Linked DNA regions of Homo sapiens. The protein of the gene in region 5 interacts with the protein of the main gene of each other region in a pairwise test. Each region holds a gene or a part of one and is shown on either strand. Other genes may lie near its edges.

Region 1 (4,558 bases), on a different chromosome or scaffold from region 5:
AGGCAGCTTCCCAACACTCAATACACAGTCATTTATTTGTTTTTCTGCTGATTCCTTATTTTTTCTCAAAATAGTGTGATAACCTGCCGACTGGGGTGATGTCAGACAGAATTCATTGATTCATGAAAGACATAGCCCTAGGAGGTGCCAAGGCCTGTGTTCAGTTCTGTGGGTTCTGTTAATTGTTTTGTTTGTTTGGTTTTAACAACTGCTGTGTGCCAGGCTCTGGGATAAGTACCTTAAGTAGGTGATCTCATTTATCCCTCCCAGCAGACTCTGAAGCAGAAACCCTTTATCAGCATAGTACAGATTAGAAAACTTAGGCTTAGACTGGTAGTAACAGTTAGATATGGGATCCAGGGGCTGGAATTTGCCTCCCAACTTGCCCACCTGTGTACAGTGGGGAGAACAGGTGTGACTTGATGTCCTCTCTCTCTGCAGGTCTTCTCAGTACAGCATGGTGGCTGGGGCAGGCCGAGAGAATGGCATGGAGACGCCGATGCACGAGAACCCGGAGTGGGAGAAGGCCCGTCAGGCCCTGGCCAGCATCAGCAAGTCAGGAGCTGCCGGCGGCTCTGCCAAGTCCAGCAGCAATGGGCCTGTGGCCAGTGCACAGGTGAGAAGGCCTCATGGGGCTGGGGTACCCTGAGCCAGAGGTTGTGGGAGGGACACAGTCTGGCGTCCTGTTGTATCATTCAGACGGGGTGCTCTGAGGGGAAACATGAAAAGACGTTCCAGGGTATCTAAATCTGAACGGGAAAAAGTTCTGTTTCCTTGAGGAAATTAGGGCGTGATGTGGTTCTGAAGAGGGAGGCCATGCCCATGCCCCTGGTCTCTAACGTGCGTGAGTCTCATGGTAGAGACAGTGGCTCACTTTGCAGATACATGGACCCAGTTTCATCCCTTGGCAATTGGCCACCAGTAAACAGGCTTGCCCTTTGGGGGCCGTGTGCCTGTGGATTTGGGCTGCTGACGGCACATGTGCCTCTGCTTCCACAGTACGTGTCCCAGGCAGAAGCCTCAGCTTTGCAGCAGCAGCAGTACTACCAGTGGTACCAGCAGTACAACTATGCCTACCCCTACAGCTACTACTATCCCATGGTGAGTGCCCAGCCAGTGGGGCGGGGCAGGGCGAGGTGGAGTCTGCTGGGTCGGGGCGAGGTGAAGTGGAGTCTGCCGGGATGGGGCTGGGTGGTGGATGGACTGGAGATCGCAGTGATAACTGCTCAGAAACCCTCTAACTTGCCCAGGAGGTAAATTCCTAGGTCCCCGCCATGAGCCACAAGGTCCTACATACCCGGTTCTGGTCCCTTCTCTCCTCATGCTCATTCTGCCATGGCCATCGAAGCAGAGACCTCCTTGATGCCCGCACCCGCCAGGCCCGCTCTCGCTTTGCCCTGGCTGCAGTGCTCCCTGTGTTGCCGCCTCTTGGAGGTCTCTGCTCAGATGCCGCCTTCAGAGAGCCTCTACCTGACACACTGATTGAAAGTAGCATTCCTGCCTCGCAGCCTGTCCCTCTCCCTTTCTTTGCCATCTTATTGTTTCATGATCCTTATTGCTGGATGTATTACATGTTGATGTCTCCAGCCGGACATGTAATTCCAGCACAAGCTTCATTACAGCATGGGTTTTCCTTTTGTTCTGTCGTAGTGCTTAGAAGAGTTGGCACTCAGTATCGTTGATTATATTCTTCCGAGAACTAGCTAAGTGAGATGTGGGATTGATAGAGGTTTTTCTTTTCCTAATATATGAGAGGATGTGGTGCATTAATATAGTGAAGAGAGAAAGGGGTGAGGGATTGGTAGAGGGTCATGGCTGGTGTAGTTCCTGAGCAGGCTGGGGAAGCGGAAAGGGTAGGCCTCCCACTAAACCCTCCCTCCCTGCGCCTTTGCAGAGCATGTACCAGAGCTATGGCTCCCCTTCCCAGTATGGGATGGCCGGCTCCTATGGCTCAGCCACACCCCAGCAGCCATCCGCACCCCAACACCAAGGGACTCTGAACCAGGTAACATCCTAGCCCAGCTCCCATACCCTGCTCAAGCAGAGGAAGTGTAGATTTTTGAATGAGCTGTCAATGAGGAATGGCTTGTACTCCTTAAGCTGCTTTTTTCCTTCCAAGCAACTCCTGATCTGAAAATGAGGAGGACAGAGCATAGTGTTTGAACCTGGGGTGGGTTTAAGGCTGAGCCAAGGCCAGGGCTGAGATGTTGAAAGACATCTCATCTTTTTCCCTAGCATGGTCACCCACAGGCGTGCACACACCGGCTGGGTTTTGCATTGAATGTGCAGCTTGGAGGAATGGCCGGGCTAGTGCACAGGAGGCAGGTAGACCTGGGTTTGAATCCCAGCTGTCCCACCCCTGGTGTAATTACGCATCTCGGTCAGCTCTCGAAAGCGGGAAGGATGGTAGCCTCATCCTTGGGCTCCATGAGTGTGTGTGCTCATGGGTGTCTTGTGCTCAGATGGTAGCGCTGGAGTGGGTGTGTTGTCGGTGGCTGTTACTCCAGCATTGAAACGCTGCCAGCTGCCGCTTCATAGCTTAGGGCCCTGGGAAGTCGCTTAGTCTCTGAGCTGGAGCCTTGTCAGCTGTGAAAAGGGCTGTTAACAAATGTTAACCTCACAGAGTTACTGAGGACTCGAATGAACTCACATTTGGGAAGGTCACGGGAGGGTTGAGTGCTGAGTGCTGTGACCACTGCGTCCTCACAGCGAGGGCTGAGTGCCACTCGCCAGCCCCAGAATCTGCCTCCCGTGCTCAGCGCCTGCTTCCTTCTGCAGCCCCCAGTCCCCGGCATGGATGAGAGCATGTCCTACCAGGCTCCCCCTCAGCAGCTGCCGTCGGCTCAGCCCCCTCAGCCCTCAAATCCCCCACATGGGGCTCACACGCTGAACAGTGGCCCTCAGCCTGGGACAGCTCCAGCCACACAGCACAGCCAGGCGGGGCCCGCCACGGGCCAGGCCTATGGGCCACACACCTACACCGAACCTGCCAAGCCCAAGAAGGGCCAACAGCTGTGGAACCGCATGAAACGTAAGTTGGCAGAGCTACGTGGAGGTCCGAGCGGTTGGGCCCTCATAAGAGCTCCTGGGTGTGAGGCCCGTGGTGTGTGCTGCTCCTTGTTTCTGGGTGTTGTGATCGCCAGGCTGGGGGTGGGGCTGCTCTGGACCAGGCACATGTGTGCTGGAGCCCTCCTCTAGAACCTGAGCGCTCCTCCCTGCATTTCCACTTCCTCCCGTCCCCTGGGGACCCCTGGATGTGCCGGGGAAGGGCCTAACCATAGCTTTCGCTGCCCTCACAGCCGCCCCTGGGACTGGAGGTCTCAAGTTCAACATCCAGAAGCGACCCTTTGCTGTTACCACCCAGAGCTTTGGCTCCAACGCAGAGGGCCAGCACAGTGGTTTTGGCCCCCAGCCCAACCCTGAGAAAGTTCAGAACCACAGGTGACGTCTGCCCCCTTGCCCCGTCGCAGCCCCACACTCTGCACTCAGCGTCTATGGTCCAGTCCCACTGGCCAGCTGCCCACCCTGAGCCTCAGTGTGCGCCTCTGAAAAGGGCAGAAGGACCCTCTCTTGGGGGTTGCTGTGAGCACTGAAGGAGACAGAAGGAAAACTTGGGGACTGCGTCCCGCTGTGTCAGCTCAGAGTGGCGGTGGGGATGGTCTTTTGAGTTTGGGATCGTCTCCAGCTGAGCCCCTCATCTGTCCTCCCGCAGCGGGTCCTCTGCCCGGGGGAACCTGTCTGGGAAGCCGGATGACTGGCCCCAGGACATGAAAGAGTATGTGGAGCGCTGCTTCACCGCCTGTGAGTCGGAGGAGGACAAGGACCGCACGGAAAAGCTGCTCAAGGAGGTGCTGCAGGCGCGGCTGCAGGACGGCTCGGCCTATACCATTGACTGGAGCCGGGAGCCCTTGCCGGGGTTAGTCTGGGTGGGGGACATAGGTGGGAGGGTGGTGCTGTGAGAGGCATGGGCTGGGTATGGAGGTAGGAGAGTTGCGGGTCCCAGGTACCAGGAGCTCCAAAGAGAAATGAACTGGAAAGTTGGATCCTGGGGGGATGAAGTCCTGGTTGGAGGGAGGCCGGTGGGGTGGGGTGGGGACCATGGGTGCTGGAGAGGCGTGCATTGCTCAGTGGTTAAGCGCACCCTCTGGAGACGGAAAACCTGGGTTCGCGTCTCATTTCTGCACTGTAGTAGCTGAGCCGCCTGGGGTAAGTGCCTTTCCTTTCGGAGGCGGGTCGGTACCTTGAGGGAGGTGGTGGCGGCTGTCCTGCCAGTGTCTGGCGGGGTTGGTGACGCCCTGCCCTGCTGTATTCTCAGGCTGACCCGGGAGCCTGTGGCTGAGAGCCCTAAGAAGAAGCGGTGGGAGGCCGCTAGCAGCCTTCACCCTCCTAGAGGGGCAGGCTCGGCGACAAGGGGCGGGGGTGCCCCGTCCCAGCGAGGGACGCCCGGGGCTGGGGGTGCCGGTCGAGCCCGGGGCAACAGCTTCACCAAGTTTGGCAACCGCAACGTCTTCATGAAGGACAACAGCTCTTCTTCCAGCACAGACTCCCGCTCCCGCTC
Region 2 (4,558 bases), on a different chromosome or scaffold from region 5:
TTTTCAGCAGCTTAAGGTGGGCCTTTCAACTTATCTACCTAATTGGTTGCACAAGAAGTTTCACAGCCCATGACAAAACATTGTCAGTGATCAAAGTCAAAATTCTGCATAAAGGAAAAATATTAATAAGAAGATTATTCTTCAAGTGTGCACTGCTAATTATGTCCAGAATGTAACCGTAGAAACACTTTTGACTGATGTGAGCTTTGTCTAATAAACATGAATCTTCAGTGAGCTATGAAAAGTGAGACACCTCTAGCTTTACACTGGTGAAGGCTAATTTTGCTTATTAAATAATTTTTAAACATTTCCTATTTTGTGTCGCTTTCCTCTCCATTTGACTCTCCTTGCTCTTGCTCCTCAGGTGACCACCCCTGAGATGGTGATGCCAAGCAGCATGTTCCTCCCAGCAGCTGTTCCAGATCGAGATGGGAATTCCAATTTGGAAGAGGCAGGAAAGCAGCCTGGTCAGTATCATTATTCTTGACCCCAAGAAATTGAAACAAGATGGAATGCCAAAATGTTCATGGAGAAAGGTTTTCAGGAATTCTTTACAATACTCTTAAGGTGAATGTAACTGATCAGGAGATGAGGGGCACTGTCATCAGCTACTTTATACTCTGCTTCTTGGCATGTATTTGTATATTACTCACATGGTTTAAAGTGAGAGAAAATTAGTATGAGAACCAGTGGAATTCTGGCACAGACACACACATCTTCTTAAACTATACAATTAGGGAGTGAATAACCAGAGACTCAGTCAGTAGGCCCTACCATTCTAAGCCATTAAACACTGTATTTCTGAGGACTTAATTAGTAGGGACTTGTGGGTTGATTTTTAGGTACACTGGATTAGTTGTCTTTCGTTCTGAGTTTTTTGGGATTGGCTTAGGATGAAGCACAGAGATGCTGATGGAAAGAACATTGTTGTAGACAGTAGTTGGTGCCACATAGTGTTTCCTGGCTAGATGAATGGTTAGACCTCTGTGAGGCTGTCCTACATCGTTCACCTCTAAGGTGGGAAGAGTTCTAAGTTGGGAAGAGTTTGGCCACACTACTGTCCTGCCTTCTCTCTTTCTTGTGAGTTTTCCATATTAGACAATGGACAAATGACCTGTTAAAGGGTCTCGGTATTTATGAGTGTGATGATCTCATTGTAGGGAAAAAAATGTATTTTAAATAATTGAACACTTGAATGTTAATTGCTTATTGAATAGAGATGGCAATCAGAAGTCACATTATAACAAGAAATTAAATGCCTAAAAATATGTATCCCCAAATTTCTTATATTACGATGTTCAGCAGTTCTTGTAAATTCCTCACAACTTAGGACAGCATTAATTCACATATTCTACACTTCAGATCTACTGTGCTAAATGCTTATTACATAAAAGATGAACATAAAAGGGAAATCCAGTCTAAGATCAGTAACCTTCAAACCAGCTCTTGAGAAATTGAGGATTCTGAGTCAAGCAATTAAATGCTATTTAAAAGACTGTTAGATCTGTGATATGACATGGGTCTATTATGCATTGAAACTTTTTGTATTTCCTTTTATCCATCTCTGTTCATGTGCACCCTGTTTATAATATGTGCTCTATTGGAGGAACAAAAGAAAGCAGGAGGCGCTCCGCAGAGATTCTGTCATTCAGGTTGGGCACTTCCCTCATCATCAGATTCTGTGTTCATGAGGCCTGACTAGGTAGACCGCTCTGGGTGCCATCCTTGAAACAAAGCCTTCTTTATCTTTGGGTTTGATTTTTTTTTTTTTTTTAACAGAAACCTCAGAGGATCTGGGAAAGAACATCTTGCCATCCGCAAGCACAGAGCAAAGCGGAGATTTGAAACCATCCCCTGCTGACCCAGGCTCTGTGAGAGAAGACTCAGGCTTCATCTGCTGGAAGAAGGGGTGCAACCAGGTTTTCAAAACTTCTGCTGCCCTTCAGACGCATTTTAATGAAGTGCATGCCAAGAGGCCTCAGCTGCCGGTGTCAGATCGCCATGTGTACAAGTACCGCTGTAATCAGTGTAGCCTGGCCTTCAAGACCATTGAAAAGTTGCAGCTCCATTCTCAGTACCATGTGATCAGAGCTGCCACCATGTGCTGTCTTTGTCAGCGCAGTTTCCGAACTTTCCAGGCTCTGAAGAAGCACCTTGAGACAAGCCACCTGGAGCTGAGTGAGGCTGACATCCAACAGCTTTATGGTGGCCTGCTGGCCAATGGGGACCTCCTGGCAATGGGAGACCCCACTCTGGCAGAGGACCATACCATAATTGTTGAGGAAGACAAGGAGGAAGAGAGTGACTTGGAAGATAAACAGAGCCCAACGGGCAGTGACTCTGGGTCAGTACAAGAAGACTCGGGCTCAGAGCCAAAGAGAGCTCTGCCTTTCAGAAAAGGTCCCAATTTTACTATGGAAAAGTTCCTAGACCCTTCTCGCCCTTACAAGTGTACCGTCTGCAAGGAATCTTTCACTCAAAAGAATATCCTGCTAGTACACTACAATTCTGTCTCCCACCTGCATAAGTTAAAGAGAGCCCTTCAAGAATCAGCAACCGGTCAGCCAGAACCCACCAGCAGCCCAGACAACAAACCTTTTAAGTGTAACACTTGTAATGTGGCCTACAGCCAGAGTTCCACTCTGGAGATCCATATGAGGTCTGTGTTACATCAAACCAAGGCCCGGGCAGCCAAGCTGGAGGCTGCAAGTGGCAGCAGCAATGGGACTGGGAACAGCAGCAGTATTTCCTTGAGCTCCTCCACGCCAAGTCCTGTGAGCACCAGTGGCAGTAACACCTTTACCACCTCCAATCCAAGCAGTGCTGGCATTGCTCCAAGCTCTAACTTACTAAGCCAAGTGCCCACTGAGAGTGTAGGGATGCCACCCCTGGGGAATCCTATTGGTGCCAACATTGCTTCCCCTTCAGAGCCCAAAGAGGCCAATCGGAAGAAACTGGCAGATATGATTGCATCCAGGCAGCAGCAACAACAGCAGCAGCAACAGCAACAACAACAACAACAACAACAACAACAAGCACAAACGCTGGCCCAGGCCCAGGCTCAAGTTCAAGCTCACCTGCAGCAGGAGCTGCAGCAACAGGCTGCCCTGATCCAGTCTCAGCTGTTTAACCCCACCCTCCTTCCTCACTTCCCCATGACAACTGAGACCCTGCTGCAACTACAGCAGCAGCAGCACCTCCTCTTCCCTTTCTACATCCCCAGTGCTGAGTTCCAGCTTAACCCCGAGGTGAGCTTGCCAGTGACCAGTGGGGCACTGACACTGACTGGGACAGGCCCAGGCCTGCTGGAAGATCTGAAGGCTCAGGTTCAGGTCCCACAGCAGAGCCATCAGCAGATCTTGCCGCAGCAGCAGCAGAACCAACTCTCTATAGCCCAGAGTCACTCTGCCCTCCTTCAGCCAAGCCAGCACCCCGAAAAGAAGAACAAATTGGTCATCAAAGAAAAGGAAAAAGAAAGCCAGAGAGAGAGGGACAGCGCCGAGGGGGGAGAGGGCAACACCGGTCCGAAGGAAACACTGCCAGATGCCTTGAAGGCCAAAGAGAAGAAAGAGTTGGCACCAGGGGGTGGTTCTGAGCCTTCCATGCTCCCTCCACGCATTGCTTCAGATGCCAGAGGGAACGCCACCAAGGCCCTGCTGGAGAACTTTGGCTTTGAGTTGGTCATCCAGTATAATGAGAACAAGCAGAAGGTGCAGAAAAAGAATGGGAAGACTGACCAGGGAGAGAACCTGGAAAAGCTCGAGTGTGACTCCTGCGGCAAGTTGTTTTCCAACATCTTGATTTTAAAGAGTCATCAAGAGCACGTTCATCAGAATTACTTTCCTTTCAAACAGCTCGAGAGGTTTGCCAAACAGTACAGAGACCACTACGATAAACTGTACCCACTGAGGCCCCAGACCCCAGAGCCACCACCACCTCCCCCTCCACCCCCTCCACCCCCACTTCCGGCAGCGCCGCCTCAGCCGGCGTCCACACCAGCCATCCCCGCATCAGCCCCACCCATCACCTCACCTACAATTGCACCGGCCCAGCCATCAGTGCCGCTCACCCAGCTCTCCATGCCGATGGAGCTGCCCATCTTCTCGCCGCTGATGATGCAGACGATGCCGCTGCAGACCTTGCCGGCTCAGCTACCCCCGCAGCTGGGACCTGTGGAGCCTCTGCCTGCGGACCTGGCCCAACTCTACCAGCATCAGCTCAATCCAACCCTGCTCCAGCAGCAGAACAAGAGGCCTCGCACCAGGATCACAGATGATCAGCTCCGAGTCTTGCGGCAATATTTTGACATTAACAACTCCCCCAGTGAAGAGCAAATAAAAGAGATGGCAGACAAGTCCGGGTTGCCCCAGAAAGTGATCAAGCACTGGTTCAGGAACACTCTCTTCAAAGAGAGGCAGCGTAACAAGGACTCCCCTTACAACTTCAGTAATCCTCCTATCACCAGCCTGGAGGAGCTCAAGATTGACTCCCGGCCCCCTTCGCCGGAACCTCCAAAGCAGGAGTACTGGGGAAGCAAGAGGTCTTCAAGAACAAGGTT
Region 3 (4,558 bases), on a different chromosome or scaffold from region 5:
GAAACCCAGCATTATCAGACCCAGGCACTCCTGACCAACACCAGGCCAGTCAGACCCACCCCCCATTTCCAGTTGGGCCACAGGTCAGTATCTCTCAACTGCTTTCCACTGGGCTGCATTTAGGATGGTTTAACCATATAAATCACCAAATAAATAATAATGAGTTAAATCCAATTGACTCCAACAGAGCAAAGATGGTAATAAATTTTCGTATGAAAAGCTGTATGACTACATTATTTATTAAATACCACCAAGAAAATATGTGTTTGCAAAACTCTTCTCTCTTCTTAAAGGAAAGGTTGGCTTTAATCATGTGGAAACACTTTTTTTTTTTTATCTTAAAACCCACTACAATTGTGCTGTTGGTTACCGTGCAGTTTCCTGGAAAGTAAAACTTTAATGACTGGAGTGTGAAGAAAATTAAGTTATTTCAACCTTACTATAGCCATTTTTGAAATAGAAGATGTGATTTAATATAAAAAAGTTAATGCAATTTTAATGCAAGTTCAGCTTATTGGGTTTGACAATACTGTACATCACACATAGCTCTTGCATTAATAAAGAAATACAATCATTATTTTTTAAAGTCCAATATTTGTTTTTTGCAGCCTGGTGTGGGCTATATGGAGATGTAGAACACAATTATAAAAGGCTGGGCTTTTTTTTTTTTTTTTCCTTTTTACCTCTATCATTTAGTGTGAAGCTTTCAGAGTTCATCCTGCTTTTTTGGAAAGAGAAGCTGAGACTTGGGCCTTTCTCTCCCTTTTATTGTCATTATTGCTCCTGGAAGTTAATGACTTTAAGCACATTGAGGGCTCACCCAAGTTTAGAGTGAGGGTTGGCCTTGACATTCTTATTCCACTCGCCACCAAGACTCCCTATGGCCTCAGATCCCGTAGTCCATCTCGGAGGACAGATCACTCTGTGCCTGTGGACAGAAAGCCTGGGGAAATGTCTGCTGGCTTATGGAAGCCTAGAGAGTTTTCCTGGGACTCTCAGGAACAGGATTTTTGGTGTCATACGCTTTATAATTTTATGCTTGTAACATTGTGTGTGTGTTCATGTAATTATGTGTGTCTGTGTGTGTGTATGTCTGCACACCTGCCTGTGAACATACTGGGGGTAACACACTCTAATGCCTTCAGGTTGGGTAGGCAGCCCCACAGGCCCAGGTCAGTGAGGAGTGGTGGCCCTCCGACAAACTGGAGAGTGCATGCCCTGCCTTGAGCCCACAAATCCTATTTTTAAAATGCTGCAGGCCAAAACCCCCAAATCTATGACCCATATATGGTCTGAGAGCTACTTATTTGCCTTCCCTCTTACCATAATATCACTATTGGCAGTGATGTAACACCTGGAATCTGAGGGCCAGCATATAATTTTGTATACATTCCCGAAGTATATTTATTTTGCTCATTAGAATAACTGTATTTTTTTAAAAAGGGAAGCACAGTTACTTGGTGTGAATTTAGCAAAGTGCACAAATACATTAGGAGCAAGGCCTGTGGGGTCTAAAGCAGCAGTTCTAAACTCAGCTGTGCAGAATCCTAGGGCTCTGCAGAGTCTCCCCCAAAGGGTCCTGAAAGGAACACTGCAGGGAATGGCCAAGTATGGGCTTAGCCCTCTCCACACCTCCCCTCATTCTTCAGATAAAGCAGCCCCACTTCTCTAAATCTGTTCTTTGTATTGGAGGGGATACAAGAAAGGGGTAAAACATGGGCTGTGGAGCAGCCTTCCTGGGCTTGAACTTGAACCCCCTCTCAACTAGACATGGGACTTGGGCAAGTTACTAACCTCTCTGTATCTCATTGGTAGATTAACTACAGCATTAGAATAGTGCCTGGCTATTATACATTGAGCTTAGTAGTATGCCTGTATTTAATTTCCTACCCCTCACATAAGAGTTTTGCATTGGTTCTTGTAGAAGAACAACAGATACAGGATTATTATGTTCCACATGGCTCCCACAAGGCTGCAATGAAAGTCCTGAATCAAGGACTCTAAGATCAAATGACTCTTGTGGTCATCTGGCTTGACCAGGGCAGGAATCCTTCCCATGTCATCCTGGTGAAGAGCCCACGTGCTGCACTCAAAACATGCCGAGCAGTTGCCTTTCCCTACCAGAGAAGGGCTGTTCCATCCATAGTGGATGTAAACATGTGTTTGTATAATATCATTTTAATTGGGCAAATGATGTTAGAGTAATAACAAAAGAATTATTTTCAAAGATTTTAAGTTTTATCCACATCAAATATTTTTATGTCTTACATTCTGTTTTAGATCTTGTCATTGTACATACATAATTCTACCATTTTAACAATAATCATTCAAGTTTACTTAATAGTTATCCAGCTTACTTTCTATTTTATTCTCATATTATAAACATTTTCTATTTTTCTAAAGAGGTGTCATAATGATCCATTTTAATGACTATGCAATATTTCATCTAGTTTAGTACTGTAATAAGCTATTTTCAATATTTATGTATTTTGAAACAATACATGTTTTTATGCAGTTATCTTATTTCCTTTTGAATAATATCTTCAAGCTATATCCTAGGAGTATATTCTGAGTTAAAGGGGGATAAATATTTTTGCAGCTCTTGATAATCTATTTCTAAATTGCTTTCCAAAAGGATTATGCTAGTGTACATGTCCCCCAGCCATAGATCTGCATAATGGTGTCAATACAGACTTTCCAGCATTGAGTAAATTTTCTACATTATTTTTGTTAATTTAAAAGTCAAAAGTAGTATTTCGTTGCTCTTTTTGAATCAAAAAATCCCACTGATCCCAATGAGTTCTTTCTGGAACAACAGAGAATAAATTAGCTGAGAGCTTCAAATATATGAAGATAGGATCAAATGGAAACTCAATGGAAGAGTAGCATATAAACGTAAGTTATTACTTGTAAAGATATTTGAGTTCCTCACAAGAAGTCCAAACCAAATGAAATTTTCCAAAGAAATCAATGAAATGCAACTTTGAAAATTTTTTTCTACCAATCATTTTTTTTTAATGAGATAGGGCATGTTTTTTGGTACTTCTTCGGGAACTTTCTGACCCTACTTAAGTGGAAAGAAGATGTTTTTAAAACCCATGCCTTGGTTCCACAGGAAAGTGAGCTAGCTGTATCTGTTTCCTTGCAGCCACTTCTGACGGCACAGCAGTTAGCTTCTGCTGTGGCCGGCGTGATGCCGGGAGGCCCCCCAGCCCTCAACCAGCCAATCCTCATTCCCTTCAACATGGCGGGACAGCTAGGAGGCCAGCAAGGACTGGTTCTCACACTGCCAACAGCGAATCTCACCAACATCCAAGGGCTGGTGGCAGCAGCTGCAGCCGGAGGCATTATGACTCTGCCACTGCAAAATCTACAAGGTAATCCATAATGTCCATGCGCCACGTAAGGCTCTACCCGTTGGCCAGTATTCTCTGAAGTGGGCAAAAAAAAATGTGCCTAGAATGGTGAATGTGGTTCAGAGTTGCTTCTGCCCTAAATGATATGGAAGGCTTCCACAGGAAGCAAAATTTTCAGTTGTCTGTGAATCCTGAGCCTGCACAAGCCATTGGTTTTATCAATCCTCATTTCCTAACATTGGTATCAAAACTTTTCAGGACTCCTGGAAGCATTTATGAGTCATCATTGCATGACATATCAGAAACTTAAAAGTAAAATTCCTGTGTTGTTATTTGAAGACCTGAGTTATCATCTCACCAATTCTTCAATTTAGCCATGGGTAAAGAAAAGTTAGAGGTTGCTTTTTTGTGTTTGAAGTGATTGGAACATCTCAAATACAAGATATTATTTGGAATAATTTATTAATGATTATTTTGCTCTACAAAGTATGTTTTAGTTATAGTTATTAAACAAAAATTGTGTTATTTGAGCTCATATTTTGCAATGAGAAAAATAGACTTGTATGTTGAGCCTTTATACTACAGGGACATATAACAAGTCAGACTCTAATTTTACTTAGGAAGGGTAGTTGTCTTGATATTATGAAGGTTTTGACTTTTCTTTAAAAGATTTGGTAGCATTGACTGATAGATTGATTTACAAAAGATTCTGTCAGAGGAGTAATTATTTTGGTGGAAAATGACCTGAATATAAATAGGATGCCTGCTAAAGAGAAAATGAATTTATTTTGGACTAGTCAAAGATGTTTGTTTTCTTCATATATATATAAAATTAACAATTAAAATTTTTGCAGAATGAGGGCCTGTCTGGGTAAGTTATCAGAATAGCAATTTAAAATACTTTTTTAGCTGGTCAAATGTTAGGGCTTCATATAATTTATCGGAGAATCAGTCCACAAGACTAAGAAACAGACCAAGTAAGAACTGTTCACTCTTGACCCAAACTTCTTTCCGTTCTCTATGTTCTGTTACCCCACCCATTGTTGCCACTTCTTGACTTCCATTTTGATGTTTAAAACGAAGTCTCTCTTGTACCATTAAATTGTGCCAAGAAACCTGCCATTCATAAATCATGCATGCCCAGGATACGCTAATGCACAAACTTTGCTTGTTTCAAATTTGAGAGTGCCTGGGAAGCCAGA
Region 4 (3,524 bases), on a different chromosome or scaffold from region 5:
ATCACTGGGGGATGGGGGTGGTAGTGGTGGGAATGGGAGTGAAGGGCCGAGGAAACTTGATGGGAAAGTGAGGGACTGTCTAAGCCAAAAGAGCTTTTCAGTTCTTCTCAATTTGGACAAAGCCACTTTTTGGCAAATAGATGCCACCATCTGCAGGTGGCCGCCTCCATGCTGCTCTCGTATATAATTTGGGCATGGTGGGGCATGGGTGTTTAGTAGGGGTTGGGGGAAGCAAGTAGAGAGTTCAGACTCTTAAATAAGTTGTTTGCCAGAGCAGGCTTAGATCTGGGCACTGTGAAGTAAGCGACCCACCCTGGGGGGGCGCCACTGTAATTGTCCTCGGACCACTGGGCGTGCCACCTCTGTGGGACATCCCTTAGGTGACCTCAGCTTGGGTGTGAGCATTAGGTAACTCTCTCCCTTGGCATCTGTGCCCTCTATTCACAGATAACTCTCTCCCCTGTTTCTAGGAGAAAAAAAAAGTGCGTTCGCTACATACAAGGTGAAGGCAGCTGCCTCAGCCCACCCTCTTCAGATGGAAGCTTACTAGATTCGCCTCCCCCCTCCCCGAACCTGCTAGGCTCCCCTCCCCGAGACGCCAAGTCACAGACTGAGCAGACCCAGCCTCTGTCGCTGTCCCTGAAGCCCGACCCCCTGGCCCACCTGTCCATGATGCCTCCGCCACCCGCCCTCCTGCTCGCTGAGGCCACCCACAAGGCCTCCGCCCTCTGTCCCAACGGGGCCCTGGACCTGCCCCCAGCCGCTTTGCAGCCTGCCGCCCCCTCCTCATCAATTGCACAGCCGTCGACTTCTTCCTTACATTCCCACAGCTCCCTGGCCGGGACCCAGCCCCAGCCGCTGTCGCTCGTCACCAAGTCTTTAGAATAGCTTTAGCGTCGTGAACCCCGCTGCTTTGTTTATGGTTTTGTTTCACTTTTCTTAATTTGCCCCCCACCCCCACCTTGAAAGGTTTTGTTTTGTACTCTCTTAATTTTGTGCCATGTGGCTACATTAGTTGATGTTTATCGAGTTCATTGGTCAATATTTGACCCATTCTTATTTCAATTTCTCCTTTTAAATATGTAGATGAGAGAAGAACCTCATGATTCTACCAAAATTTTTATCAACAGCTGTTTAAAGTCTTTGTAGCGTTTAAAAAATATATATATATACATAACTGTTATGTAGTTCGGATAGCTTAGTTTTAAAAGACTGATTAAAAAACAAAAAGAAAAAAAAAGCAATTTTGAAGCAGCCCTCCAGAAGGAGTTGGTTCTGTATTATTTGTATTAAATACGAGCTTGCGAACCAATCATTTTACATCTGGTTTTTAAACCGTAAGGGCACCATGAATGCAGTGCCGTTACTTTTTTTTTTTTTTTCTGTGTGAAACAACTCTTATTGTGATGTTACTTGTTATTGTTTAAATGTACAGAAACAAAGGGTAAAAATGTGTTAATATACCTTGTTCCATGGTGTTGTTCTTTTGGGGGGAGGGGACGCTACTCAACACTTAATAGAATCACAACGCTGTTGGGCCAGTAGTATTTATTGCTTTAGAGATTGCTTGTCGTACCTGTATGTCGTCCCTTTTTAAATATGTTTTCCTTTTTCTTGAAACTGTATAAAGTTTTTTTCCCCCTTAGCATAAGCATCTTATATATAACAACTCATTTGTACAAGGTTTTTAAGTTTATATATAAAATGTGTATATATATTTTTGTTTCCCCTTTTTGACTTTTTTTTTTCTGTATGAAACCCAGATGTCACCAAATGGACATTAATAGTTGCATTAAGGATCAGTAGCATTAACAAAAGTTGCTTTAAAAGCCATTATGTAAAACAAGACTTGAAAATGAGTGAGGGAATTTTAGCGACACTGTCTGAGCAGCAGTGGGAACCATCTTCGTTTCCCCTTTGAACTCCCAGTGGGATGCCCTACCCTGCGCCCTTAGGACCCGGACTGACCGTGTACAAAACTTTACGTGCCAAAATTCTCAGTGAATTTAGCTTTCTCCCTCTTTTTGATGCTGTAATTTTTGTTCATCATGTTTTGCTGTGATGTTACATAGGTAGATTTGTATGTAGTTTTAATGTCACCTATAACAAAATGTGTTTGGTAGCAGATTGTCCAGAAAGCATTTTAAATGAAGAGGTATAAACCCTTAAGGGCCAAAATTCTGTATATTAGATTACTCTTAAACGAAAAACCAGCTGCCGCTTTTATGTACACATATTACATACGAGTAGGCAGCAGACTTTAAAAATAAAAAAAACCTAGGCATGTTGATGTTGCAAAATGCTGTATAAAGCTGAAACCTGTTCATTCAGTGCCATTGTAGTTGACATGAAGCGATTGTAAAACTGTCTCCGATTTTTCTCTGGTTTATTAAAATGCTAACTATAACATTTTTTGTGAATACTTTGAATGTTTCCTAACAGTTGTGATGTTACTGTTCCGTTTTATGCTCTTATTCCAAGTTCATTTTTAATGGTTTGGAAGCCATTTTTGTAATGAATAAATGTTCATGCTGTACAGTATCTGTAGCATGCCGTTCTGGATTAATAAAAGCAACTTAGTATGTGCAGATAAAGGCTGGTCACTTGTTTCTGTGATTTGGATTTTTATCTCTAGGGAAACTGGACCTACCGTAATCAAGAAAAACATATTCCCACGTTGGAACTTGACCATACAGTTAGTGTGTAGGTGATGACTTAGATACCAGAACGTGGTCTTGGACTCTTTTGAGGGGTTGATCCCCTCCCCTCCATCCTCGTGGCCCATTTGGTGTATCTGGTTTGCATAATGTGTCATTTGCAATGGAGATGATCAGTATCAAAGGGGATCCCTGGTGTGTGTCTTCTGTAGTATTTCACCGTGCCATTCCCAGTAGTTTGTTGCTGAAAGCAAAGCACAGTTACAGAGCAAATGTCACTTTTTTGGGGGCTATAAACCAGTTTCTCTGAAATATCCTACTCATCCTCTCACAGTAGCAAGCAGAAAGAATTTAATTCTGGTGAATGAGACTTAGTCCACCAAGAGTGCACTTAAGAAACCACATCCTTAGCAGTTAAGGATCATGGGTGTGAAAGCATCCTAACCTCCAAGAGTTGCATCCTGGGAGAGATGCAAGGGTATCAAACTGCCCTTTCTCTAGCAGTGAGCGATTATTGAGTAAGCAGCTTTTTAGAAAATTGGATTAAGGTGATGCACTGAAAGGTGTGTGTGGAAGGGCCTTGCTGTATGTGGGATCCAAGTGTTCTGGCTGTACCCTGGTAAGAGCCCAAGTTCATCACCATCACTGAGCAGGGGCCATGATACAGATCTTCCCTAAGGTTTCCCCTGGATTTCATTTCTCTTGCTGACTAGATGGATGGATGGACACATTGTTCCATTTATCTAGGACATTTATACCTTCAAAGGATGACGATTTCAATGGGCATGGAACTGTTCGTGTTGCCGTTGTGGTTTCTTAAGGTGACCACAGTATCGCATCAAGGACTTAAGAGCCCCTCGGAAACTG
Region 5 (3,815 bases):
ACAGTGTTGTTAATTTGTAAATTAAGAAGCTGGCTCCCCGGCTGTCTAGTAACTTAGGGATTAGCAAATGCAAAAGTATAGACTTTTATGGTAGTTTCTTATCCTTCCCTTTCCCAGATTTCTGTTCTTTGGTTGGTTACAAAGCCTCTTATCTCTTTTTGATTCAGTAAAGTGATGGGTAATAATGCGACACTGGAACAAATCCATCTCTTGTTGGAAATGGAAGCTGGGTTGGGACTTGTGCTGTGTCACCCTCAAGTATGAAGTGTAAACTCTTTCTTGGGCCACCAAAGTAACTAAACAAGAAATGCAACATTCTCCCATGAATACATTAGAGTTAATACTGTGGCCACATTTGGAAAATTAGCATAGCTCGTAAAAGCCAAATGCAGAAAATTAATTGTTAAGTATTCTATCACCACAGCTCTATCCTCCTCCGCCCACCCACCCTTGAGGAAGACAAGCCCAAAGTTAGTTGATGCTATGGAATCACAAGGATGTCCCAGTCCGTGATTTGCTGTAATTGAATCCATTTTAAATGTGGAGTCTGGATGCTGTTGGCATACCTTTATTTTGCTTGTTTTTCCCCCTGACAAACAAATCATTTACACATTTGCCCGAAGCCATAGAATGGGTAGAGGGGATGACTAAGATGTCATCACGTGCTCTCAATTTGGAGGCAGCATGATTTCCCCTGACATTTACATTTATGGGCTAGCTAATTTTTCCCTTCGTCTTAGTAAAGTTTATATTACAGAAGCGCCCAGCCAAGAACCTTATCCCACATCCAGATCTGTAAAATGATGTTCAGATTTTATAATCTGTGGACTGGATGCAATGACAGCTTGTGACTGTTTATTGCGTGGGACTGCCCCCAAATTCAAAGATGCTATTAATTTACCACAGACCTTATCTGCACGATTATCCTTCATAAATATGCTGACGCAATCCACTTTTTCTGGTTCAGAGAGGAGACCAAGGGAAACAGCTAACCCGGTTGCTAAAACCTTTTTCATTTTCCTTCCCATATGTGATTGTCTCCATGTCCAAGGGAGGCTGGGCTAATCATGAACCTGGTCTCCCATTTTTAAAGAGAAGATAAATTATGCTCAGAAGAGATAGCGGTTCATTTCTCACCGACCACTTGATTCCCTTGTCTTACATTAAATGTTCTATTTCTGTTATCTCTAATGCTGTTTGTTTTCCATATAGAAGGTTCAGTTACACCATTACATTTCCAAAACTTTTCTTAAAAAACTCATTTTTAAAAAACGAAGCAACTTACCCATTTATATATGGTCCCCCTCCCCCCAAGAAACACACATAGTTTTGACAAAGGTACCTTTTTCAAAGATGAAACAAAGTATGTCTTTCCATACATAGATATGTGTGTGTGTGTGTGTGTGTGTGTGTGTATATGTATGTATATATAGATTTTTTTAAAGCTAAGTGCTTTCAGTTGAGAGGGGAGGCCCGAAAGGAAAAAACCTAGAGAGATGACGGGGGAGATGGGTTTTTTTTAGTATTATTTTAATGTAACTTTCTTTTGCTAATCCGCTCCTCTCTCTGTTCTCTAGGACATATGAGCCCTACCACCTGCACCCTGAGGAAACACAAGACCAATCGGAAGCCGCGCACGCCCTTTACCACATCCCAGCTCCTCGCCCTGGAGCGCAAGTTCCGTCAGAAACAGTACCTCTCCATTGCAGAGCGTGCAGAGTTCTCCAGCTCTCTGAACCTCACAGAGACCCAGGTCAAAATCTGGTTCCAGAACCGAAGGGCCAAGGCGAAAAGACTGCAGGAGGCAGAACTGGAAAAGCTGAAAATGGCTGCAAAACCTATGCTGCCCTCCAGCTTCAGTCTCCCTTTCCCCATCAGCTCGCCCCTGCAGGCAGCGTCCATATATGGAGCATCCTACCCGTTCCATAGACCTGTGCTTCCCATCCCGCCTGTGGGACTCTATGCCACGCCAGTGGGATATGGCATGTACCACCTGTCCTAAGGAAGACCAGATCAATAGACTCCATGATGGATGCTTGTTTCAAAGGGTTTCCTCTCCCTCTCCACGAAGGCAGTACCAGCCAGTACTCCTGCTCTGCTAACCCTGCGTGCACCACCCTAAGCGGCTAGGCTGACAGGGCCACACGACATAGCTGAAATTTGTTCTGTAGGCGGAGGCACCAAGCCCTGTTTTCTTGGTGTAATCTTCCAGATGCCCCCTTTTCCTTTCACAAAGATTGGCTCTGATGGTTTTTATGTATAAATATATATATATAATAAAATATAATACATTTTTATACAGCAGACGTAAAAATTCAAATTATTTTAAAAGGCAAAATTTATATACATATGTGCTTTTTTTCTATATCTCACCTTCCCAAAAGACACTGTGTAAGTCCATTTGTTGTATTTTCTTAAAGAGGGAGACAAATTATTTGCAAAATGTGCTAAAGTCAATGATTTTTACGGGATTATTGACTTCTGCTTATGGAAAACAAAGAAACAGACACAATGCACACAGAAAATATTAGATATGGAGAGATTATTCAAAGTGAAGGGGACACATCATATTTCTGCATTTTACTTGCATTAAAAGAAACCTCTTTATATACTACAGTTGTTCCTATCTCTCCCCCGCCCCCCACCGCCCCACCACACACATATTTTTAAAGTTTTTCCTTTTTTAAGAATATTTTTGTAAGACCAATACCTGGGATGAGAAGAATCCTGAGACTGCCTGGAGGTGAGGTAGAAAATTAGAAATACTTCCTAATTCTTCTCAAGGCTGTTGGTAACTTTATTTCAGATAATTGGAGAGTAAAATGTTAAAACCTGTTGAGAGGAATTGATGGTTTCTGAGAAATACTAGGTACATTCATCCTCACAGATTGCAAAGGTGATTTGGGTGGGGGTTTAGTAATTTTCTGCTTAAAAAATGAGTATCTTGTAACCATTACCTATATGCTAAATATTCTTGAACAATTAGTAGATCCAGAAAGAAAAAAAAATATGCTTTCTCTGTGTGTGTACCTGTTGTATGTCCTAAACTTATTAGAAAATTTTATATACTTTTTTACATGTTGGGGGGCAGAAGGTAAAGCCATGTTTTGACTTGGTGAAAATGGGATTGTCAAACAGCCCATTAAGTTCCCTGGTATTTCACCTTCCTGTCCATCTGTCCCCTCCCTCCGGTATACCTTTATCCCTTTGAAAGGGTGCTTGTACAATTTGATATATTTTATTGAAGAGTTATCTCTTATTCTGAATTAAATTAAGCATTTGTTTTATTGCAGTAAAGTTTGTCCAAACTCACAATTATTTTAAGAGGTGTTCTCTGTTCTTAGCTGGGCTTAGCTCGAAAGTGCTACCCACATGAGGGGGAAGCTGGTCTTTTTTAATATTTTAATGTAAGTCAACCAAGAGTTGTGGCCAGATTCAGCCATGTTGGGGTGATTGGTGGTGGTGGGGAGTGAACTGAAACTACTGAAATACTTTGAAATGTTTCCTCTGGCAGCTTGTTACTTATGGAAAAGAGGTGGAATTGCTGCGAGGAGTTTTTCAGAAAAAGTACAGTGAAAGATAAGCTTTAAATAAGTGGTGAGGCGGAGATCGGCCAGCATCTAAATCATTTGTACATGATCAAGGGAAAATCTTGAACTTGAAATCTCCCAGCTACCAACACATCAAACTTAAAACTGAGGAAAAGGGTCCTTATAGCTGTTTGCAAGTGGACATGGTAACGAGGCGCATTCGCTGGGCTGGGGGATGGAAGCCGGCTCCCCTTTCAGGAGTGTGTGAAATCGCATTCCGTTTAC
Region 6 (4,995 bases), on a different chromosome or scaffold from region 5:
TCTTCTCCCAAAACTCCTTCCTCCTATCTTCTTTCTCACTGATACTTGTACTATCTTTGTTATTATACTGTTTTGACTTTTTATATTGGTAAAAGACATATTTTTAAATCTTTATAAAAAGATAGTTGAGAATTTGACCTATATCTGATATATGTATTTTATTTTAGAATTTGACCTATATCTGATATATGTATTTTATTTTAAACATGTAGTACTTTACAGAATTCATTATTGCTGATTAATGAAACTGCCTTATGACATTTTCAGATTTCTTTCCAATAACCCTTGCTTGTATATTAAATGGCACCCTACAAAATATCTGATTTCTTATTCTACTTAAAACCCCTCCTCCACCCCCTACCTAGCTAGCTAACTCTTTGTTCATCATGTCCATTTTATCTGTTACTCTTTTCATGAATTTCTTTGCATAATTTGTTTTTTATTTTTTTCAATGGGATCATAGACCCTACCTCTATTCTTCACATTCTTTTGAATGAGGATTGAGTTAATTAAAGCACTTAATACCTGACACATTATAAGCATCATATAATTTTTAGTTATCATTGCCATTTAATTATGTTTAAAAATTCTACACTCAAAAGTTTAAAATTAAAAACTTATATTCAGTATTATATATATCATGTAATGTAATTTTCATATCTTTAAGAAACTGTACACGTATATTTTTCTTTAAAATTAAACTCCAGTGTAACATTCTTTATATACAAGGATTAGGATTATAGTCTTAAATGTTACTAAAAATTATTTATTTCTTTGTCATATATTATACTGCCAGGAAAACATTGAGTAGGTATCTTGTTTTACCTTTGGCCCCTCCAAAATGTATTTAGTCTTTTCTATGTTTTACTGGAAAATGCTATAAATTATCTATCTTAAAAATATCACATGGATCACTGGCTTAGCCAGACAATTTTCTTCCTATATCTACCTATTTGCCTATCTTTGTAATCTTGATATTCTTATTCAAACAGTTATGTGATAGTTTCTATAAATTGGACATACTGTAACAAAACATTATTTTGAGAAGAACTCTGTCTTTTAAATGTTCTTTTTAAAAATTAGTTGTTGGCACTCAAAACAATTATACTTATCAACCATAATACTTTTTTAACTGTTTCTTTTTGAGACAAAGGCTTGCTCTGTTTCTCAGGCTGGAGTGCAGTGGTGTGATCATGGCTTACTTCAGCCTTGACCTTCTGGGCTCAAGCAATTCTCCTACCTCAGCCTCCTGAGTAGCTGGAATGACAGATATGCATCCCCACACCGAGCTAATTTCTTTTTATATTTTTTATAGAGTCGAAGTCTCTCTATCTTGCCCAGGCTAGTCTTGAACTCCTGGGCTCAAGTAATCCTCCAGCCTCAGCCTTCCAAATTGCTGGGATTACAGGCATGAGCCACCATGACCAGCCTCTTTTTAATTGTTTAAGAATTTTTTTTAAAACAAAAACATGTTCACTTGGGGGTAAAAATTAAATAGAGAATATTTTCCCAAATTCTGTATTTCAGAAATTACAACTTAATTTTGAAGTTACATGTAGGCAGTTACAATACTTACAAAACAAAAATGTTTGCCTATCTGTGTGAATCTGCATGGTTTAACTGGTTATTTTCACTATTTTTTTCTCCTTCCTCCCTCTTCACTATTTTTTAACTTAAGTTCAAGTATCTTGAGGAACCTGTTTTTAATCTTTAATATATCTAGTATAACATTGTCTTTTTTGAGATTTGGGACTCAGAATTGCCCTATTTAAATTTATTTTTTGAAAATTCCCCCATCTATAAGAGCATTAATGATGCAATAATAATATTCCTTGTCTCCTGGCAACAGTAACCCTGGAATTGCAGCAAGTGAGGTGTAGAGAATGTGTGGAGATCAGGTGATGCAGAACTCTGGTAAAGGATGTTAGTCTTCAGAGTAAGACTGTTAAATTCAGCAAAGTCTACTATCAGAAGACACGGTGAGCAATCTTGTAGAAAGGGAGTTTTTCTTTTAGTTTTAACTCTGAGCACACATCAAAATTGACGTTTAATTTATATTTTGTCCAGAAACTTATTTGATTCAACTAAAATATCTTTGAAAATTATCTCTTTCATTAATAACTGTGCCCAAAATCATGGCTGTGGTAAAACTGAACTCAGTTAATATGTTTAAAAGGGCATCAATAATTGTTTTAATATTTTATTTTCTGAACTAGCTCAAGAGTAAGAGATAAAAGACATAACTGATACGTTGATATAGTATTAAGAATTATGTTTTTTCAGAACTCTAGAGTAAGAGAGTTACAAAACTCCCTACGTCCTACATTAATTGACTGACACATTGACATCTCAATAAATAGCCTGATGATGGATTATTTTCAAACTTTAATTTGTTTCTGAAGTGAAGTATTAAAAGACTATACCTAATTCCTTTTTTGATATCAAATGTTTTTAATTACTACATACCAGTGAAAGAAAGTTATTGTCAGGTAATCAAGCATGTTTACATATCTGTATTTTTTTTATATAGTCCTGAACTTCCTTTTCAGATTATTTTTTTTCCTTTAAAGCACTCATGTCTTATCTCATTTGTATAGTTTTTGTTTGTTTGTTTGTTTTTTAGATGGGGTCTCACTCTGTCACTAGGCTAGAGTGCAGTGGCATGATCTCGGCTCACTGCAATCTCTGCCTCCCAGGTTCAAGCGATTCTCCTGCCTCAGCCTCCAGAGTAGCTGGGACTACAGGCATGCACCACCACACCCAGCTAATTTTTTTTTGTATTTTAGTAAAGACGGGGTTTCACCATGTTGGCCAGGATGGTCTTGATCTCCTCACCTCGTGATCTACCCGCCTCGGCCTCCCAAAGTGTTGGGATTACAGGCGTGAGCCACCGTGCCTGGCCTCACTTGTATAGCTTTTAAGTACCTTAAGAGTGAAGTTACCTTATTTTCCTCTAGTAGAACAATTTAATGCAAGTAAAGTTTAGAAAAATAATCAAATTAATCATAAACTGAATGGATTTTATTAAGCCAATTGTATTTTAAAATAGCAAAGACTGCATTTTGAAATTGTTTCTTTAAAGAATGCCATTATCATTCACCCTTTTTCTCCTATGAAAATTAACTGCAGATGTGAGAGAAAATATGAGGACCTGAATATCTGTAGCCAAACTAAGAGTAGAAGGTGTTGAAATGAGGGAGGGGACTTCCCCATGATAAGGAGACTTAAGGAAAAAAGTGACTAGAAAAAAATGCCACGTCTTTCAGCAAAACTGCCTTCTGAGCGTGAACTTAAATTTGTATTTGTGTTGGAAATGCTTGAAGAAATGTGAGGAGAAGGAGGAGTTATTTGTGTGTCGGGGGGTGGGAAAAAAAGTGGAGGTTACTGAGTGGGAGGTTGGGAATTCATGGGGCAAGTCATTATTTATAAGAAAAAAAGGGAAAATAGTTTTTGGTATAGGAAAGGAGAAAGGTAGTAGTATCCCATGGGAGAAAGTTCAGCAATGAAGGAGAATGGAAAGTAATAAGAGATCACCCCACCTAGGGTAGGTAGAATCCATATGATTCCTTCTTTCTTTATTTCTCTCCCTTTAAAAAAATGCCTTTCATGGCTGGGTGCAGTGGCTCATGCCTGTAATCCCAGCACTTTGGGGGGCTGAGGTGGGTGGATCACGAGGTCAGGAGTTCAAGACCATCCTGACCAACATGGTGAAACCCCGTCTCTACTAAAAATACAAAAATTAGCTGGGCATGGCAGCGCATGCCTGTAATCCCAGCTACTCGGGAGGCTGAGGCAGGAGAATCGCTTGAACCTGGTAGGCAGACATTGCAGTGAGCTGAGATCGCGCCACTACACTCCAGCCTGGCAACAGAGCTAGACTATGTCTCAAAAAAAAAATTGCATTTCATTTTATCTTTCTTTAATGGCCCCTTCTCTTGCTTGCCTACTAGCAGGCTCCCTCCTGAGCCTCACGCTAACACCACACCCCTGTAGTTTTTCTCCTTGATGGGATGGGTTTGAGGAGAGCAGCAGTTGGTGAGGTAAGTTTTAATGTCTGAGAGGGTGCGGTGAGTAGACGGGGAGAGCTATGAACAGAAGTTTTTTGGGTTTTTTTTGTTAGTAAAAGGCTTTTTCTAGAAACATTGGGATGAGTTTCTACTTTTCTCCTTCCTCAGATAGTGTTTAAGAGGGATGTGAAAGATGTATATGGTGTTGGCTATAATTCTGGAGTCCCCTTCAGAGAATACTTAATTCCTTGAGTGTTGACAGGGTTATCCACAGAGGGGTTAGTGATTTGGAATGATGTGGATAAAGCTTATGAGGTTACTGGGTTTACTGTGAGGGTCATGGCGAGTTGTACAGCATCCAGTGCAGAGAGAATGGCATTTTGGTCTCACTAGGTGGCTTTACCTCCCAGCTTGCTTGAAAGCCTGTTGTACTTCAGAGTATTCTCAGCGATTCCCTTCAAAAGGGGCTGGAGATTTCTCTGGCCAGCTTGCTTCTCTGAAATTGGTGGCAGTTTGGAGAGGCAGCAACTCTGCATCATTTACATCAGAAGCAAGAGAAGCTCACTTGGTGACTGTTGAATTCACATAGCTATAAATCTTTACCAGCTACAGCCACTGGAAGGGGCAGAGGAAGAGTAGGAAGGGGAAGTAGTACTACTGTTGTAGTTTTCCCAATGAAGCAAAATATGTAGCAGTATTTTGTTGTTTGAGATAGTATCCAGAGTTTTTTTTTTATATTTAAGAGAATTAAGGAGCGTGGACACAAGGGTGAATTTCAAGTGAAAGTTTAATAAGCAAAAGAAGAACGCTTTCTGCAGCAGACAGTGGGGCCCAAAGGGGTTCCCCACCATGAGGCCGGGGTTCAGGGTTTTTATGGACCGGGATGGGAAGGAATGTGCATAGTTTGCAGGCTGTTTTGAGGAAAGTGTGATTTAGCTTGGTCTGGGACCAATCAGGAGCTGAAGTGATGATTTATTGGGGCTACCTA
Region 7 (4,558 bases), on a different chromosome or scaffold from region 5:
TGACTTAAGTATCTACCTATAGATCTGTCTTTTTCAATTTTTGCCACAAAAATGACTCCTGGCTGTGAAGAATGGCAAAGAGGAAAGGCAGCCTGACTCCTGCAGCCTCACACGTGAGTCAGATGCAAGTTGAAGAGACAGATGACTCTGGCTTTGTCATACAGACATATCAGGATGTGTATGATACTATTTGTACAGGAAGATCATTTGCAGTGGAGGGAGTATTATGGCTAGAAAAGCTTGTTCCCACATTTTTGAGTTGAGGAAATCAGTTGAGTTGAACAGTGGAAAAGGGAGAAGGCCCTGGCTGATCACCATGATTTTCTTCCTTTAAAGTTTCTGTAGCAGGATCTTTGTATATATGCCTATGTGCTGGTATGGTGAAGAGGAACAGATTATCAGGAATCCGCCTTTGACAGAGACATTTGAATGCAAACATCATTGCTTGAAAGGTAGAGGAAGCCTTCTCCCCAGTCAGAGGTAAGCACACAAGTGGATGGATGCAGGGAACCTGCTGTTCCCCTGGACTCACATCAAGCTATGTAGGCCCACTCCAACACAGTGCAGTTGGGAATGGCCCCTTCAGGGTTTGGACAAGGAGAAAGCAGTCCCCAACCCCTGCATTGATGTGGAACCTGCCAAAGGATGATTTGCTTCTGGAGTGCCAAGTGCAGGCACACCAGGCAAGAAAATGCAACTGAGGAGCAGTGGCCTTTTGCTAATAAGACCATCGTCTCTGGAGTGAAAGGGCCGGTGGCTTGTTGGTTGTAGTGGCAGTCATATGTGTGCTCAGCATCTCCATTGCGTGGATGGCTGGATCAAGCTGCCTCTTTGGATCTTGGTTAATCAGTGGTGAATGGGTGGGTAAGTTTAGAATTCCGGCTAAATATGTCTGGCTTCAAAGACGTATTCTGCTCAGAAGCTCAGCTTCTGTTTCATCCTAACACTTGGCTGCTGAGTTGCTCTGTGTTTAAATTCTAGGCTTTAAGTGGCAGCTGTGGATCCACTCCTACCACCCCGCCATGTGGTTTTGCTATAGATAGTACAGTCTGCAGCTGGGGTAAAGTCAAGAGGACTCAGCCACGTGTTTCTAAGACTGTTTTTCAGGAAAACTCAGCAAGACAGTTTCGCTGTTGTTGCCCAGACTGGAGTGCAATGGCGCGATCTCAGCTCATCACAACCTCCACCTCCTTGGTTCAAGCGATTCTCCTTCCTCAGCCTCCCTAGTTAGCTGGGATTACAGGCATGCACCACCACGCCCGGCTAATTTTGTATTTTTAGTAGAGACAGGGTTTCTCCATGTTGGTCAGGCTGGTCCGGAACTCCCAACCTCAGGTGATCTGCCTGCCTCGGCCTCCCAAAGTGCATGAGCCACTGCGCCCAGCCAAACTCAGCAAGTTTTTATTGAGCATCTGCTGTGTTCTCTTGGTATAGCTCTCCCAGTAAGGAGTAAACATAATAATTCCTGGTGCTCTCCCGCTCCTTTCTGTCCCCTTTTGATTGCAGTGGACCTGCTCTGGTTCATCACAGGGAGAGAGCTTCATGCTATTTTAGAGACCCCACAAGGGATTAAAAAACTAAGGAAAGGCCGGGCACGGTGGCTCACGCCTGTAATCCCAGCACTTTGGGAGGCCGAGGCGGGTGGATCGCGAAGTCAGGAGATCCGAGACCATCCTGGCTAACATGGTGAAACCCCGTCTCTACTAAAAATACAAAAAAAATTAGCCAGGTATGGTGGCGGGCGCCTGTAGTCCCAGCTACCAGGGAGGCTGAGGCAGGAGAATGGCATGAACCCTGGAGGCGGAGCTTGCAGTGAGCCGAGATGGTGCCACTGCACTCCAGCCTGAGCGAGAGTGAGACTCTGTCTCAAAAAAAAAAAAAAAGGAAAAAATTACCTTCTAAAGTGGTATCATCATATTATCAGAAAGTTCTAATATCTTGTACTGATTGGTGGGAGCCAATGTCTCCTGGTTCTGCTTTGTTTTAGGGGACTCTACAGTACCACCCCAAGGGGCAGGGCTAACAGCCTCTTTCCCATTAGCCTTGTCTCCTCACTCCTGACTACAGCCTCCCTCTTAGGGATGTCTACATGGGACCCTCTTACACCAATCTATACCCATGATCAGCCTCAGGCAGACCACTGCGGTCATAGCACAGGACAACTTGCTCTACCAGGCAGGGCAGGACACCAGCACCTGGTCTAGACAGATCTTTGAAGTAGCTGTATTGGGAAAGGAAGGAAAATTGGCCCAATCCCACATTTCCCTTCAGAACCACTAACTGCTGCTGTCAGAGGAGAACTTGTTAAATAAAGTTCCCACAGGCCAGCCCTGTTTTTCCAGCAGCTTCCATTCTAACATACCATTATGGTCGAAAAATACATGAGTGTAAATGGTAATAATGAAACCTATTGTAAAAGTCCACTGGATATTTCTAGGGCTCAGGGCTAAGACACAGGAACCAATTAACCCATTTATGCTGGAGGTTACAAACTTTTTTGTGAAAAATCAGACTTTAATGATGATCTTGAGCAGTAGGATACAAATAATTCCTAAAAGGTTAGCGTCCCAATAATGGAACATGAGGCATAAGTGGGTTAAAGCATCTGCCCAGTAGCTAAGGGCCAAGTTCTGGTGGCACATGATCCTGGGGTTGGAGTCCAGGCTCTGCCACTCAGTAGCTGTACGTGTGACCAGGTTACTTAACCTCACCAAGCCTCTTTTTTTTTTGAGACGGAGTCTCGCTCTGTTGCCCAGGCTGGAGCGCAGTGGCATGATCTCAGCTTACAGGTGCCTGCTACCACGCCCAGCTAATTTTTTATATTTTTAGTAGAGACGGGGTTTCACTGTGTTAGCCAGGATGGTCTCGATCTCCTGACCTCGTGATCTGCCCACCTCAGCCTCCCTAACCTCACAAAGCCTCTTATTTCTTTATCTGTAAAATGGGTATAATAGTAATCTGTAGCACAAAGGGTGTTGGGCAAATTCTATAGAATAGTGCATGCGGTGTGCTGGGCCCTGGTGTGCCATCAGCACTTCCTAAAGGTGAACCTTTATTACAGTTCCAGCAGCATTCAAAATACCATGCCAATTCAGACTTTTTTAAAACAAATCTCATGCAGACATTACACAGTACTCTTCAGCCTCTGACCCTTTACCCTTTAGCAGTGGATCTCACTGTTATCCTGTGACTGTGTAATTTTGAAAGTGAATGGAAACACCTGATGATGAGTCAACCAGATCTGAAGTGGATTAAAGGGACACTGTCAGGGTGCTGGCACCCTAAGTGGGCCTTATACTAAAAAGCTTCAGTTCCTGCTAAAAGCACCTTCTGATCCTTGACTACAGTGGGGTTTGATGGCATACCTCCTTCCTGTGAAACCCAAGTCAAAATCCTTTTATCGGCCTGCCTGATTCTGTATCCTTGGACGCATGGCTGCTGTGGAAGTTGGCCCAAGATGTGTTCTTCCCAGCCTGAGATATCTCGTGGATCAGACTGACCGAAGCATCTGGGAGGTGGGCTGGAACAGTCCCAAGAAGGCCGGATTGTCCTCCCCCAAAATAAAGACAGAGATCATCCGTGTTTCTTCTCCTGTACGCGAACCTGGTGGATGCTCCAAAATCGAACCAAAACACTACCATGAATAAGAGATGACTGCACTCCTCTGACACAACTTCCTATTTTTGTCTTTGTTCTTCAAAAGGTCTAAACAGTTACTAAATCCTGTTATGCTGAAGGTGGGGAAGTTAGAAAAATAGAACATCTCCTGACAGGTAGAAGACGGGATCCTTGGAGGCGTTCCTTTGGGATTTCATTTTACCTCCATCTCGTTTGTTGTCCAGTTTCCTTTTACGAGGATTAAGCAGGCATCCTGCTGGCTAGAATCCTGTGGCTTCCCTGGAGCCTCAAATTCTTGTCTAACCACATTTCTAGTCATGGTTCCTGCAGGAGACATCCACTCAAACCACCTGTTACTGAGGCACCAAGCAACCCTAGAGGCAGTTGGCCTCTGGCCCTAGCAGGAGCAGGATCTCAGGCCATCCCACCAGGCAGCCAGCCTCAGCCCCTCACCGCAGCCTTGCAGAGTGGGCTCTGCAGAGAAGCCGATTTGTGGACAGTGCCACCCTCCATCCTGAGTCACATGGCTCATGTGGTTGCAGCCATTTTTGAGCCAGGAGGGGGCCCCTTCTAGGTGCAGCTGACCTGGGAATGCTAGCCAGAGCGGCCAGAGGAGAGGAGTTGGGGGAAGGAGAGAGGTATCTCTTGCTGGCCGCGGGATCTCATCTCCTTTTGTCTTGTTTAGGTTTCTCCTCTGCCTCCTACTTAAAGGTCCATGTTAAAACCCACCACGGTGTTCCCCTTCCCCAGGTCTCCAGGCACCAGGAGCCCATCCTGAATGGGGGAGCAGCGTTCCACTGCGCCAGGACCTATGGCAACAAAGGCAAGCGACCCCTTGCTCTGCACTTTGCTTCTCTGCGCAGACTGTGTTGTGGGGGCGCTGGGCTGGGCGTGGGGAGGCGGGAAGGCTGCCGGCTTTCTGGCTGCCTTGAGGAGACTC

Evidence for each region.
Region 1: the proteins of MSX2 (region 5) and LENG8 interact in binary tests that used the Homo sapiens proteins (3 or more experiments, as listed by UniProt).
Region 2: the proteins of MSX2 (region 5) and ZFHX3 interact in binary tests that used the Homo sapiens proteins (3 or more experiments, as listed by UniProt).
Region 3: the proteins of MSX2 (region 5) and POU6F2 interact in binary tests that used the Homo sapiens proteins (3 or more experiments, as listed by UniProt).
Region 4: the proteins of MSX2 (region 5) and TCF7L2 interact in binary tests that used the Homo sapiens proteins (3 or more experiments, as listed by UniProt).
Region 6: the proteins of MSX2 (region 5) and TENT5D interact in binary tests that used the Homo sapiens proteins (3 or more experiments, as listed by UniProt).
Region 7: the proteins of MSX2 (region 5) and PATZ1 interact in binary tests that used the Homo sapiens proteins (3 or more experiments, as listed by UniProt).

What each region holds. Positions count from the first base shown.
Region 1 is NC_000019.10:54,451,652-54,456,209, forward strand, and holds part of LENG8 (leukocyte receptor cluster member 8), read left to right. Parts: intron 1-441; coding exon 442-616; intron 617-999; coding exon 1,000-1,101; intron 1,102-1,894; coding exon 1,895-2,005; intron 2,006-2,778; coding exon 2,779-3,031; intron 3,032-3,299; coding exon 3,300-3,441; intron 3,442-3,712; coding exon 3,713-3,916; intron 3,917-4,315; coding exon 4,316-4,558.
Region 2 is NC_000016.10:72,795,936-72,800,493, reverse strand, and holds part of ZFHX3 (zinc finger homeobox protein 3), read left to right. Parts: intron 1-364; coding exon 365-467; intron 468-1,779; coding exon 1,780-4,558.
Region 3 is NC_000007.14:39,204,244-39,208,801, forward strand, and holds part of POU6F2 (POU domain, class 6, transcription factor 2), read left to right. Parts: coding exon 1-83; intron 84-3,148; coding exon 3,149-3,377; intron 3,378-4,558. UniProt on the Homo sapiens protein: Probable transcription factor likely to be involved in early steps in the differentiation of amacrine and ganglion cells. Recognizes and binds to the DNA sequence 5'-ATGCAAAT-3'. Isoform 1 does not bind DNA.
Region 4 is NC_000010.11:113,165,085-113,168,608, forward strand, and holds the end of TCF7L2 (transcription factor 7-like 2), read left to right. Parts: intron 1-470; coding exon 471-888; 3' UTR 889-2,594; downstream 2,595-3,524. UniProt on the Homo sapiens protein: Participates in the Wnt signaling pathway and modulates MYC expression by binding to its promoter in a sequence-specific manner. Acts as a repressor in the absence of CTNNB1, and as activator in its presence.
Region 5 is NC_000005.10:174,727,582-174,731,396, forward strand, and holds the end of MSX2 (homeobox protein MSX-2), read left to right. Parts: intron 1-1,577; coding exon 1,578-2,002; 3' UTR 2,003-3,315; downstream 3,316-3,815. UniProt on the Homo sapiens protein: Acts as a transcriptional regulator in bone development. Represses the ALPL promoter activity and antagonizes the stimulatory effect of DLX5 on ALPL expression during osteoblast differentiation. Probable morphogenetic role.
Region 6 is NC_000023.11:80,418,585-80,423,579, forward strand, and holds the start of TENT5D (terminal nucleotidyltransferase 5D), read left to right. Parts: upstream 1-1,862; 5' UTR 1,863-1,979; intron 1,980-4,995. UniProt on the Homo sapiens protein: Catalyzes the transfer of one adenosine molecule from an ATP to an mRNA poly(A) tail bearing a 3'-OH terminal group.
Region 7 is NC_000022.11:31,328,670-31,333,227, reverse strand, and holds part of PATZ1 (POZ-, AT hook-, and zinc finger-containing protein 1 isoform long C), read left to right. Parts: intron 1-4,303; coding exon 4,304-4,441; intron 4,442-4,558. UniProt on the Homo sapiens protein: Transcriptional regulator that plays a role in many biological processes such as embryogenesis, senescence, T-cell development or neurogenesis. Interacts with the TP53 protein to control genes that are important in proliferation and in the DNA-damage response.